Linked DNA regions of Homo sapiens. The protein of the gene in region 2 purifies or fractionates together with the protein of the main gene of each other region. This does not show direct contact. Each region holds a gene or a part of one and is shown on either strand. Other genes may lie near its edges. The genes, in order: MRRF and ZNF501.

Region 1 (3,827 bases), on a different chromosome or scaffold from region 2:
CTAGTTGCGGGTCAGACAACAGACTCCCTGATGCCAAGTGTTCCTCTGTGTGGAGACAGAGTCTCGCTCTGTTGCCCATGCTGCAGTGCAGTGGTGCAATCTTGGCTCACTGCAACCTCTGCCTCCTGGGTTCAAGTGATTCTCCTGCTTCAGCCTCCGAAGTAGCTGGGATTACAGGCGCCCGCCACCACACCTGGCTAAATTTTTTATTTTTAGTAGAGATGGGGTTTCACCACGTTGGCCAGGCTGGTCCCGAACTCCTGACCTCAAGTGACTCGCCCACCTCAGCCACCCAAAGTGCTGAGATTCCAGGCATGAGCTACTGCACTAGGCCCTCTGTGTGTCTCTGGACATGTAACTTAACCACTGTCTGTGCTTCCTTCCTCACTTGTAGAATGAACAAAATAACAGCTAGCTCCTTGAGTTGCCTAAAATCTAGTAAAACTTGTTAGCCACTATTATTATCAGGAAGAGGAGGCCTGGGGAGTAGTGTCTTGGAAGAAGGGAGCTATTTGGATCAAGGCCTGAGCCAGGAAAGGAAGAGAATAGCAGGGACTTTTGCCCTGCCCTCCCCTAGGCAAGCTGTGAGCCTCGGTCAGGGGCAGCTAGCTCGCGGAGGAGCTGCTGTCTTTGGAGATTTAGGGGCTCTAGAGCCTAGCGAGGCTGCTTTGGAACTCAGGGATGCACGGCAAATGTGGGATGTGGGCAGAGACCTTCTCCCTTCCTCTTCAGGGCTTCCACCCAGCATGCTCAGACCCCCTCAGCCCAGCAACCAGCACTTTTGTCACAGACACTAACACTCCCAGTAGTGGAGGTAAATCTCCCTTAAGTGTCACTTGTGGCTGCAGATGCTAGCAAAGGGAAGCGCCGGTGGGAGGGGAGTACAGTAGATGCCAGTGGCCTTGGATGCCATGCGGTCCCTTAAGATGTCTAGAAACGCCTGAGGCCGACTTAGCAGATGAGGTTGAAGGTCCTGGGCAGGCAGGTGAGGATAATTAGAGAAACTCTGGGTTATTCATGTAAATGTGACGCCATTTGTATCAAGGCCTGGCAGGCCCCTTAGAATTAGACAAACATTTCCTCAACACCTGCTCTCGCCACATACTGTGCTAGTCAGAGAATGCACAGACTAAGACAGCAGGGGACTTTCTTGCCAGGAATTCACACAAGGCTTATCTAGGGTTAGCCATGTTCTGCCTCTGAGCCAAGTGTCTAGAGACCCGGGTGAGGCCAGCCTGGAACATTTGCCACATCTGTTCCCTGGTGAGCACCACTCAAGGGTGTGCCCAGGAAGGAAAGGAAAGGTCTGTTGAAGGGAGAATTGACAGGACTTGGTGACTTATTGGATGAGGGGAGAGGGACAGGGAGGCAAAAGTGGCTCCCAGTGTCCTGGCTTGGCACCTGGGTGGATGGTGAGGCTTTTCCTGAGAGAGGAAACGCAGGTGGGTAGCTGAACGTCAGATGCTTGAGGCAAATCCAAGCGCTTAATAGGCATAGGCAGGTTTAGGGATCAGGAGAGGCATCGGTATGGATAATGAATGAATGAATCAGGAGAAGCATCGGGATGGATAATGAATGAATGAGTTAGTGTAAGGAAGAACATGGGACCAAGAAGGGCTTATAAGACTAGGTAAGTTTTGCCTGCTGGTGGGGAAGTGGTTTAAGGGAGCATACACTAGGCAAAGAAAATAGCCTAAGAAAAGGCTTGAAGGTGAGAGAAAGCAGCACAAAATTATTAGCTTTCAGAAAAGCTAATAATTCCGTTTCGCTTAAGCACTGGTGGTATCAGGGTAGTTGTAAGAGATGCATCACAATTAAAGGAATACATCAGGCCCAGATTGCAGAAGTTACTGAATGCCAGGGTGAAGAGTTTACATAATTCAGCAGGCAACAGGGAACCAATGAAGGTTTCTGAGAGAAGAGTGACATGATAAAAGCTGTTTCAGGTTGTTCTAACTTAACAGCGTAGGATGGACTGAAACACAGACCAGAAGAAAGGAATGTAAGAGAAAGGGATCTTCGGGCACAGCTGTGCATATCTGCAGTTCCAGGATCACTTGAACCCAGGAGTTCAAGTCCAGCCTGGGCAACATAGGGAGACCCCTCATCTCTTATTAAAAAAAAAAGAGAGAGAGAGAGAGACAAAGAGGCAGACAGAGATAATCACTTATTTGTTTATTCCACAAAAACTGAACTTCGTCTATGTGAAGCAACCCTCTTCCTCATTCTAATCTCTAATCCTTTATCTGCTTAGGGCTAAAACACCAAATCACTTATGTTAATACTGAAAATAAAGAAAAAGTAAATGGGTTCTACTAAACATATCACTATTATAAATAAATGTAAATGAATTTAAGTGTCTGTTAAAAGGAGCTTTATATATACTTATTCATATATACAACAGATTACTCAGCCTTAGAAAGGAAATTCTGATACATGCTACAATATGGATATACTTTAAGGACATCATGCTTCAGTGAAATAAACTAGTCACAAAAAGACAAATCCTGTATGATTCCACTTAACATGATGTTCCTAATCAAATTTATAAATTCATAAATGGTGGTTGCTGGGGGCTGAGAAGGGGGAACTGGGGTTGTGTAATGGGTATAGAGCGTCAGTTCTGCATGGTAAAGAGTTCTGGAGGATGGTTGTACAACAATGTAAATGTACTAAATGCTACTGAACTGTACACTTAAAATGGTTAAGGCTGGGCACAGAAGCTCAAGCCTGTAATCCCAGCACTTTGGGAGGCCAAGGTAGGAGAATCACCTGAGCTCAGGAGTTTGAGATCAGCCTGGGCAACATAGCCAAGACCTTGTCTCTACAAATAATTTTAAAAGTTAGCCAGGTGTGGCGGTGCACGTGGCTGTAATCCCAGCTACTCAGGAGGCTGAGGTGGGAGGATTGCTTCAGCCCAGGTTGTCAAGGCTACAGTGAGCTGAGATCATGCCACTGAAATCCAGCCTGAGTGACAGAGCAAGACCCTGTCTAAAAAAAAAACATGGTTAAGAGAGTAAATTTTATGTATATTTTACAATTAAAAATAAAAATAAGAAAAAAGGAGTTTCAGAATGGTTCATCGAACAAAACCCAATTCCAAAAAAAAAAAGAAACACCTAAAATAGTGATTCTGAAAGCTTAAAAATCAAGAAATGGGGAAAGCAAATGTAAACAAAAAGCAAGCAAGAGCTGTAATCCTGATATACAACAAGATAAAATTCAGACTAAGAGCACTGAATGAAATAAAGAAGATGTAAGCGTCTGGAGCGCTATGTATAAAACAACACAGCAGTACTTTCACAAAGCAGAATCCATTTTCATAAAGCAGAAAATGCAAGAAGGAACAGAAATGTTAATAGCAGGGGTCTGAAACACACCACTTTCAGTCCAAGACTCATCAAAGGGTCAAAAAATAATGGAAAACCTAAACAACATACTCTATAAGCTACATTTCCTGCATACATATCAAAATTTGTACCCCCAAAATAGGGAACATATCATTTCAAATGCACATCATGAAAAATGACCGTCTATTAGGGCAAAAGAAAGCCTCAAAGTGGCTTTTGAGGATACAAGCTTTTATGATCACTCTTTGTCTAACCGCAAAGTTTCACTGAGTGGTTTCAATGCAACAAAGAATGTAGAAGCAGTTTGAAAACTAAAAAGCACCAAGCAAATATTAGTTACTGATCTGTCAATACTGTTATTGTTGTTATTATTATCATTATTCACTGCTTGGTGAACATTTTGCTTGCTCTCTGACATATTCTAGAGAAGTTGGCCAAACAGGTGGGGGATTAATATGTAATCTTTACTGTCTCCAT
Region 2 (2,802 bases):
GGTGGAAATTCTGTCAACAATGTGGGGTGAGTTGGAAATTCAAAAAAAATTTTTTGGTACCAAAGAATTGTTGAGCAATTGTTTATTTGCTTTACTGAGCACACCTCTCATCCATTGTTAGTGGATTAACTAAACATCTGGGAGGTCACACTCTCTATCAAAGCTACCAAGGCACATACTTCTTCTTCTTCTTTTTTTTTTTTTTAAGACGTAGTCTTGCTCTGTCGCCCAGGCTGGAGTGCAGTGGTGCAATCTCAGCTCATTGCAACCTTCATCTCCCAGGTTCAAGCAATTTCTCCTGCCTCGGCCTCCTGAGTAGCTGGGACTACAGGTGCCCTCCATCATGCTGGCTAATTATTTTTGTATTTTTAGTAGAGGTGGGGTTTCACTATGTTGACCAGGCTGGTCTCGAACTCCTGACCTCAAATGATCCACCCACCTCGGCCTCCCAAAGTGCTGGGATTACAGGCATGAGCCACTGTGCCCAGCCTGAGAATTACCTTATAAATATCTTGCACATGTGCCTAAAGACAAGGATGCTGTATATGCAGTTTTGCTTACAACAGAAAAATAAAAGCCATTAAGTGTCCACCAATAGGGAACTAATAATGGTCTATTAAGACAATGACACACTGGGCAAGGGTGGGGGAAAGATCTTTATTTACTGATACAGAACAATCTGTGAGATGGTTTAGTCTTTAAAAAATGGACAACTGTGTATATTATGCTACCATTTCTTTAAAAAAAGAAAAAAGAAAAAAAAAGTAAAGAGAAGGAATCAAGGATTGAGAAAATAAGCCACAGCCTGGGAGGAAAATATTTGCAAAAGACCTATCTGATAAAGGTCTGTTATACAAAATATACAAGGAACACTTAAAATTCAACAATAAGAAAATGAGCAATCCAATTAAAAATGGGCAAAACCTCTAACAGATACCTCACCAAAGCTATACAGATGGCAAACATATGAAAAGATGCTAAATTCATATATTATTGGTGAACTGCAGATTAAAACAATTAATACCACTACATACCTATTAGAATAGTTAAAATCCGACCAGATGTGGTGACTCACACCTGTAATCCCAGCACTTTGGGAGGCTGAGGCAGGCGGATCACTTGAGGTCAGGAGTTCGACACCCACCTGGCCACCTGTGTCTGGTTTTCACAGATTTGGCATCTCACACCAACAGGAAGGTTCAATGGTGGGAAATTACCTGTATGTGACTTTGGTATTATATAAACCAGAACTGCAAATCTATAAAGATATAGATTTGAGATTCAATTCTGACATTACCTGCTTGACTTTGAGCAAGTCAAACATCTTCTCTTTTTCCTTGACTCTAGGATGTGAATAGTAACTCCTACCTTTCTTGCAAGGGTGCTTTTAGCGTTAGAGGTGCTTGTTTACATTAAAAGGCTTAGCATAGCCTAAAGCTCCATCAAAAGTATTCTTTGATTTCTTTGCTTTTTCATGGCTTTTAATGAGCCATTAGGCACTCCAACCCATCAGCATCCCCAAGACACTGTTCTCTCCTTCCTCTGACAAGTGGCTAGTTGTTAGTCAGTGGCATCAGTTGCTGGAACCTGGGATCTTAACATCTTCTACCCTCATCTTCCCTTAAGAGACCACATTTGGTGCTGTGCTCCTAGAACTCAAAACAAATACAGCCACATCCTCATCTACATGCTTATATTCTCCTCTATATTCCAGTCCTCTCTACTGTCATATGCCTTCTCCTAATCACCTGCTGCCAACCCTAAACACACACAGAAGTCCCACAACATGAGGTTTTATTCAGTTAATGTCAGGGAGGCTTTCCGTTTAATGGAAAAGTGAAACTTAGAGCTTAAAATCAAATTAGATCTAGTAATAGAAAGTATCAAAATTTAAATGAAGATCTTGAGGGTATCCAGAAATACACCCCACAATGTCCACTCAAATCCCAATCAGTACATTTTTCTCTGATTAAATCTGAAATTTCTCAAGGACAAACCAGTCTTAGATTGTATTATCCTATTTAAACCAAGACATTATAGTTTAAATAGACGTCTGTAGATCATAAAATCATAGCCCAATTACAAAATGTTCTTAAGAAACAATACATTATGAGAACCAAACAACAATGCTGATTTACTTGTCAGATTTTGATATTGTAAATAAACTTTTAGAACGGCTAATTAATTAATGGCAGTTAACTGTCACACAGAACTCATTTTATTCTCAGGACAACCCTAGGAAATATCCCCATTTTTCTATTGGGGGGAATGGGGAAACTGAGGCTCAGAAGGGATAAGGTTACACCCACTGAGCAGCAGATAAGGCATCAAACTCCAGACTAGGACACATTAGGACACAACATTTCTTGTTCAAAATACAAAATATTCATACTAGCTACAGATTGAGTCTTACATTCCTAGGAATTTAGGAGAAAAAAAAGGTGCTTCCATACAAATCTTCCCATACTCATTATATTCCAAATTTTACTCTCCAGCATGAAGCCTCTGATGTCGAAGAAGTGCTGAACTGTGCCTAAAGGATTTCCCACATCCAACACACTCATAAGGTTTTTCTCCAGTATGAATTCTGTAATGCTCACTAAGGTGTGCTTGTTTGCGGAAAGTTTTTTCACACTCACTACACTTATAAAGTTTCTCTCCAGTGTGAGTCCTTTCATGTTCAACAAGGGAAGAGTTCTGAGTGAAGGCTTTACCACATTCAGTGCATGTGTAGGGCTTCTCTCCTGAATGAATTCTCTGATGCTGCATGAGACATGCACTCTGATTAAAGGCTTTCCCACA

Evidence for each region.
Region 1: the proteins of ZNF501 (region 2) and MRRF purify together in Homo sapiens (affinity purification with mass spectrometry; one large-scale study listed by BioGRID and IntAct). This does not show direct contact.

What each region holds. Positions count from the first base shown.
Region 1 is NC_000009.12:122,327,155-122,330,981, reverse strand, and holds part of MRRF (ribosome-recycling factor, mitochondrial isoform 1 precursor), read right to left. Parts: 3' UTR 1-3,827. UniProt on the Homo sapiens protein: Responsible for the disassembly of ribosomes from messenger RNA at the termination of mitochondrial protein biosynthesis. Acts in collaboration with GFM2. Promotes mitochondrial ribosome recycling by dissolution of intersubunit contacts.
Region 2 is NC_000003.12:44,734,920-44,737,721, reverse strand, and holds the end of ZNF501 (zinc finger protein 501), read right to left. Parts: coding exon 2,485-2,802; 3' UTR 639-2,484; downstream 1-638. UniProt on the Homo sapiens protein: May be involved in transcriptional regulation. Essential for Golgi structural integrity.